Linked DNA regions of Homo sapiens. The protein of the gene in region 2 purifies or fractionates together with the protein of the main gene of each other region. This does not show direct contact. Each region holds a gene or a part of one and is shown on either strand. Other genes may lie near its edges.

The links.
Region 1: the proteins of NUFIP2 (region 2) and ATXN2L purify together in Homo sapiens (affinity purification with mass spectrometry; 5 studies listed by BioGRID and IntAct, with this or other methods). This does not show direct contact.

What each region holds. Positions count from the first base shown.
Region 1 is NC_000016.10:28,825,969-28,829,717, reverse strand, and holds part of ATXN2L (ataxin-2-like protein), read right to left. Parts: intron 3,479-3,749; coding exon 3,328-3,478; intron 2,857-3,327; coding exon 2,732-2,856; intron 318-2,731; coding exon 226-317; intron 1-225. UniProt on the Homo sapiens protein: Involved in the regulation of stress granule and P-body formation.
Region 2 is NC_000017.11:29,259,442-29,263,190, forward strand, and holds part of NUFIP2 (FMR1-interacting protein NUFIP2), read right to left. Parts: 3' UTR 1-3,749. UniProt on the Homo sapiens protein: Binds RNA.

The DNA of each region.
Region 1 (3,749 bases), on a different chromosome or scaffold from region 2:
ACTGCATCCCAGGTAGAGCACCAAGGCTTATCTGGGAATGTGAGAAGCACTTAAGACGCTTAAAACCTTTGAGGGAAGAATTCCACAAGGCAGAGTAGGAGTAGGGATGGCGACCCTGGACACCCAGAGAAAAATGAGCAAAAACTATGTTCTACCTGGAAACCTGTCTTCACTTAGTGACCCCATATCACCAACACATCACCTGGAGAGCACCAAGATACTCACGTATAAGAAGAAAGACTGCTATCATAGGTAGTCTTCACACCGTAGTTCTCCTCATTGAACTTGAACATTTCATTGGGGTCCCATCCATTGGACTGGGGAGGGAGGAAGGTGGTTTTAAAACCCAGCAGGAAAAGCAACGACAAGTCACTTCCCTTCCATCAGGTTAAAAACTCCAAGATGTGAACAAATTGGCTGGGCACAGTGGCTGAAACCTGTAATCCCAGTACTTTGGGAAGCTGAGGCAGGAGGCTCTCCTGAGGCCAGGAGTTTAAGGCCAGACTGGGCAACACAGCAAGAGCTCATCTCTAGAAAAAAATAATGAAACAGCCGGGTGTGGTGGTGCATGCCTGGGGTCCTAGCTACTCGCTACTCAGGAGATTGAGGAGAGAGGATCACTTGAGCCCAGGAGTTTGAGGCTGCAGTGAATTATTATGGCACCACTGCGCTCTGGCCTGGGCGACTAGCTGGGCGTGGTGGCTCATGCCTGTAATCCCAGCACTTTGGGAGGTGGGTGGATCACCTGAGGTCAGGAGATCAACCTGACCAACATGGTGAAACCCCGTCTCTACTAAAAATAAAAAATTAGCCATCCGTGGTGGCGCATGCCTGCAGTCCTGGCTGAGGCAGAAGAATCGCTTGAACCTGGGAGGCAGAGGTTGCAGTGAGCTGAGATCGAGCCACTGCACTCCAGCCTCCAGCCTGAGTGACAGAGTGAGACCCTGTCTCCAAAAAAAACAAAAACAAAAACAAAAACAAACAACTACAACAAAAACCCGGGCAACAGAGCAAGCTCGTCTCAAAAATAAACGACAAAACAAGAGTGGAAAAAAAATTGGAACGTGGCTGGCAAAAGTAATCAACTAATAATTGTAATTAATAACTGCAATTTTTTTTTTTTTTTTGGAGACAAAGAGTTTCACTCTTGTTGCCCAGGCTGGAGTGCAATGGTGCGATCTTGGCTCACCGCAACCTCCGTCTCCTTGGGTTCAAGCGATTCTCCTGCCTCAACCTCACGAGTAGCTGGGATTACGGGCATGTGCCACCACGCCCAGCTAATTTTGTATTTTTAGTAGAGATGGGGCTTCTCCACGTTGGTCAGGCTAGTTCCAAACTCCCAACCTCAGGTGATCTGCCCGCCTTGGCCTCCCAAAGTGCTGGGATTACTGGTGTGAGCCACCGCGCCCGGCCTGCAACTGTTAATGATTACTAACAACTGCAGCAGAAATTATCAATAACTAGTAAACCTGAAAAGTCATAAGACCTAACAATTCTATTTCCAAGACATCCCAGAAAAATTCTGGCACATGTGCGTGGGGAATATATGTTCTAAAAGTCCAGCAAGGTACTATTTTTAGTAGCAAAATAATGGCAACCAAATGCAGATGATTAAGGAAAAGGACAAATACAATTTGCTGTGTACACGTGTGTGTGTATATTTGAAAACAGCACACAACAATAGAAGCAAAGAACTAGATCTACGTACAACCATGAGAAGTTCGAAAAGGCAAGAAAAGCAAATTCTTGTACAAACTAAACATAACAAAACAATAATATATTCATTCACAAGACATTTGTTTCTCAACAGATAGTCTCGCTATGATGCCCAGGCTGGAGCACAGTGGCCATTCACAAGTTGAGTCATAGTGCACCAAAGCTTCAAATGATTCTCCTACCTCAGCCTCCTGAGTAGCTGGGACTACAGGTGTGGGACCACCACGCTCAGCTCTATTCATGAGCGGTTTTTATTTATTTTTTTGAGACATCCTCACTGTCGCTCAGACTGGAGTCCAGTGGCACAATCTCAGCTTACAGCAGCCTCAAACTCCTGGGCTCAAGTGATCGGAGCTCCTGCCTTGGCCTCCCAAGTAGCTGGGACTACAGGCATGAGCCACTGCGCTCAGCCTCATGAGATTTTAAATGCCTCAGAGTAGCTGATTTTGGGAAGAGAAATGGGCCTACACATTAATCTATACTTTTTGTTATGTTGAAAAATAACGTGATGCAAATGCTAGGAGTGGTTAATTATAGATAGTAAGAGAGTAAGTTGATGTTTTGGTTTTGTTGCGTGTGACACGGTCCACCCAGGCTGGAGTGCAGTGGTATGATCACAGCTCACTGTAGCCTCGACCTCCCTGGGCTCAAGTGATCCTTCCACTTCAGCCTCCCAAGTAGCTGGGACTACAGGTACATGCCACCAAACCTTGATAGCTTTTATATATCTTGTTGAGACAGGGTTTCACCATGTTGCCCAGACTGGTCTCGAAATCCTTGCCTCAAGTGACCCACCGGCCTTGGCCTCCCAAAGTGCTGGGATTACAAACATGAGCCACTGCACCCAGCTAAGAATAGATATTTTTACTTTGCTATTTTCTATACCTTTCTATTTGTTATCTGACTACCATCAATGGGCAACAGTAAATATTTCCCTCCCCACTCAAATGAACCTCACTGTCAACAACCCATTCTGTCTGTCCAGCTCCCAAGTTCTCAGGGAAGGAGGCTATACCATGTCAGACTCGAGGTCATAGTCGTCGCTGTTGCTGTCACCCCCCTCCCAGCGCTGAAGCACCTTCTCTTTGTGTTCCCCATTCACTTTCGAGTTCATGGCAATGGCTGAATCGGTGAACTTGTCTGTGGGGGCAGAGGTGAAGATCAGGAGTCAGGCTATATTTCACAGACTTCTTTCCAATATCCCCCAACCCCACTCTCCGTAAGTAGTTCAGGAACAAAGTTTAAGAAGTCCAGAGTACGTGTGCCCGTGTGTTAGGATGGCCAGGGGGTGGGGAGGCAAGAGAAGAAGAGTATAAAAAGTCTATCAGTACTATGATTCCAAAGAAAAAAGAAGTTAAAAACCAAGCAAAGAAAATATGAAGAACCACAACACAGACAGGAATTCATCGCATTATATATTAGACATCAAGACATATTTTTAAGAAGAAAAATCCACCCACTTCGCTCAGGAAAAAAAAGGCATTAAAGCAAAACAAACAAACAAAAACAAAAAAACAAACCAAACACATCACCATGTTCCACCTGCACACAAACTACCCTCTGTCCTCTATGCACACAGAGCAGGTCTGAGGTAACAGCCTAGGACAATACCTTTAGTAGCATAGTTGAAGTCAACATTTCGGAAGTGAACAAGCATGACATCACTTGGCTTAAACACCATGGTGTCCACAATGTCCTCCCGACGAGGGCCACCTGCTGGCTCAGATGCTTTCCGGTGCACAGCATCCACGGCTAGTTCAAACTACAAACACCCCATTCCCCACACCCATGGGTCAGTTTCAAGAAAAGTGAAGGCAAAAATAGAACTGGATTTCTCTTAAATAGAACTGGATTTCTCTTACCCTTCCCAAACTTTTCACAACACTACATCCTCAACATGCTTGGAACCAAGTGCATTGTTTTCTCAACATCAGCCACAGGACTTAGCAAAAGTCTCACAAAAATTTAAACTTAAATATTTTAACATTAAAGTACCCAGCCCTCAAATTTGTCTTTTTTCCCTGCAGCACTAT
Region 2 (3,749 bases):
TGGTGGTGTGCGCCCGTAATCCCAGCTACATGGGAGGCTGAGGCAGGGGAATTGCTTGAACCAGGGAGGTGGAGGTTGCAGTGAGCCAAGATTGCGCCACTGTACTCCAGCCTGGGCAACAGACAGTCCGTCTCAAAAAAAAAAAGGTGGGGGGGGGGGGGATACTGCAGTATTATAAAATGGCTTTAGAACTCTGCACATAACAAAATTGTATGGAAAATAGGGAAGTCTGAATCAGCAATCCCATCACATATGAGGACGGCCATTCCATAGTTTCTAGCCCATAACTGATTTACCATTCCCAATAATGCAAGAGCAACATACCAATCATGCTGCAATGGGTGTTTTTATTATGCAGACAACCGAAAATTCTATTCGCACTATTGCTGGCATCCTTTAACTACTTTAAGACCTTTCTTGAGCGGCAAAACAGTGTGAAATTTAAAACTCAGTAAAGCAATGCTTTTGAGTGGAGCCAATGATTCATCACTCTCCCAGGTGGTCCTGGTTCTCACACAGGTGATGTATATTTTAAAAGAAACATTTTAAGATACCAAAACAGAAGCCCACCCTTTTCACCATGAAAGAATCTTGGTGCTCTGTTGATTAATTACATTAGTAAAAATAACATCGATATTAAGAACTAATGTTAAGCTATGTGCCTCTGGCAAACCTAAAGCAGCTATTTATGCTTCTAGTCTTTTCCTCTGCCTCTCCCTTTTAAACAAATTATCAAAATTTTGTGGCGGGTAAGGGGACAAGAGCAAATCCTACGTTTTCCTTTCAAATCCAACAGTTAAGTCATGGGTAGGGTTATTAAGATACTGCCCTATCAGACTCTACCTTGACTGGTGTGGCATCAACCAATCTGACCATAATGACCATTATATTTGTCCCATAACATAACTGTTCTGCACAGTTAACATATTTATACAAGAGGGATCAGCTGTTGTTGAGGATGTGGCCCAGCGGCATAACTATACTAATAATACCTGGAAATTGGACTTTTAATCTATTTCTCTGAAGAGAGCCTTGTAGGAATGACTCCGTCCTTATTTACAGTGGAATTAAAATTGAGTAAAGTCCATTTCCAATAGCCATTTGATACATGACAATTTCACACTAAATGGCTTATTTAAAAAAGTTCACAGCAATTACAAAAGATAAATCATTAGATGCCTCTGATGTGGGGAAGCAACAAGCCTAACAACCAAGTATGATATTATCACTATGTAATGTTTTTTCAAAATTTTGTATTGTGGACAACTCCCATAGTTGAGGTTTGTCATATTTTCCCTACAAACTGTTATTTGTAAAAACAATGCAGCACTTTTCCTTTATGAAGTTTCTGCAGATTGAGTAATGACTAGGTAAGCAGATGATTAAGGAGGACAACAAAATTCTAAAATGGAGAAACTCTGGCCATTTATTTCAAAGAAAAAAAAATCTGTCATTAAATTCCTAGTTATTGGCTATCCCCTCCTAGAAAGTAGAGGAGGAAGGGCTGGCTACCACAGACGCTGTAAATACACTTTATGTGAAGGTTCATTACTAAGGAGGTTAGAAGAAAGGCTATGTAATTAACTTCAGTTCAGCAAAGTGGGGGTGAATAAAGAGAAAGATAATACACCCTGTGTATTTTGTGGGAAAAGGGGATTATTGAGGACACCTACAAGAGTGGTATGTGACACAGAAGCCTACAATAATCAAAACAGATTTAAAAAGAAATCTTCACCCATAATTAGTATCTTCATAGCTATTAAAAAAATAGGTCATAATTTCATTCTTAGTGCCATTTTTCAATACTACCCTTTTAAGGATTTAAACCACCTGACTTTTTTCTGTGTAATGAAAACAAATGGCACAAAATAAATACAAGTTCATTCTCTGAATACTAATGTCTTATACACATTCATTTACTAATTTTTAATATCTCCATCTTTTCCTCACACACACATACATACATACATAAACACACACACACACACACACCCCTTTTTCAGTCTTTATAATGGAGGGATGTTAAAAATCCCCTCTAGACTGTATTTGGTTTATGCTACAGTACTAATACTCTGAGTTGAAGGAAAATTCTTTATACCAAACAATAACACGTTATTTAAATGTGCTAAATTAATCACAGCTGAAGTTTGTTTAGAAGCTTACACAAAATAATCAGAAAACAGATCAACTCTTAAGATTTTTTTTTAATAAGTGCTCTGTAAGGAATTGTGTGAGGACCTAAGGAGAAAGATTGCAACAAATAGAGTTAAGTGTTACCAAACAGCACAAAGAGATTTGTCCCAAAGTCCTGCTTGTACCTAGGCAATTAAGTCTATTAACCTAATGCCCCCAAAATACTGACAGTTAATATGATGGGGCACTAGGGTTCTCAGAAAGTTAACAGACATTCCTAACTACATACCTCTAACCATATAATCAAGGAAATTTCAGTGGAGAAATCAAAGTGAAATGTTGCATTGTTTCATTTAGAAGTGAGACTCTCAAAAACCTTTGGACAGACAGAGAAGTGATACATTCTTTTTGGCTTCTCTGAACACTGAGGCCTGAGGGATATGGAAGGAAATTAGAAAAGCAATAGCTTTCTAAAGATGTTTAATCAAGTGTTGCTTCTAAGTTAAAAAGCCCAATTCAGGTGGGGTCTGGGTTTGTTTTTTGTTTTTTCCTTTTCAAATATATACTCAATTCAACCTCTGTATGTCACAAACCCAGAAAGTTTCTTGTGAGTTGTGAGACGGAAGAACTTTAAAATTCCAGGCAAGCAAAATGGACATTTAAAAAAGGGGACTAGAGAGGGGAATCTGGCCCTAAGGCGACAAGTGGTTACACAAGGCAATTGAACACACAGCAGAACTTTAAAACCTGTAAAACAAACTGGAGCCTTTTTTCCCTTTAATCAACCTTATATGTCTTTTTTTTTAACTTTTTGAAAATTTTTATTTAAAAAAACACAAAAACACAGACTTTTTTCACTTCAGTTATGTGGTATGTTGCATTTTCCAGTTTGTTCAATGCTTTAAAGCTCAAGGATGCCTCTGCTTTCAATTGTACATGGGCCTGAAGCATCCTAGCTTTTGGCAAGCAGGCAGGAGACTCAACAAAAATCAAAATAGGAACAAGGCAGACTAAATGCAGGGCACATCTGTAAACATATTATACATTTGAAAATTACAATATCAGTCAAAGTGATACAGTTTACAGGTGAAATGAAACTATCTGGAACTGGCCTACCACAAGTTTCTGAACCTGGACTGATACAATAAGTTATTTTATATATATATATATATATTATGTATAAAAAAAAGTTTTGTTTACATCAAGTGGAATTGGCAATCCATGCTTATACTTTTAAAATCTAAGCAGGGCAGAAATCCAGACTAAAAAGATAGTTACTCTACTCTATGTTGAGTCCAACAGCTTCTTTCATGAACTACTTGTTTTAAAAGCCTCAAATAATCAACAAAACAAGAAAACCCATCCATACTACAGTCACTCAAAACTGGACATTTCTAGGGGTAGAGCCAAAGTAGTTACTTTCTCCCCAAATACCCCAGGGGATCCAGTCTACTTTTATCAGAAGACTACAACTCTTTATATAAATGCCCTGATATTTTAACCTGTATTTGACATACATGGATATACTAATTTCTGTGTGTGTGATGTGATGCTGTGTCAGGCCAGACAACTTGTTATTATGTTACTAACATCACCCAATCTCAATTGGACCCTTA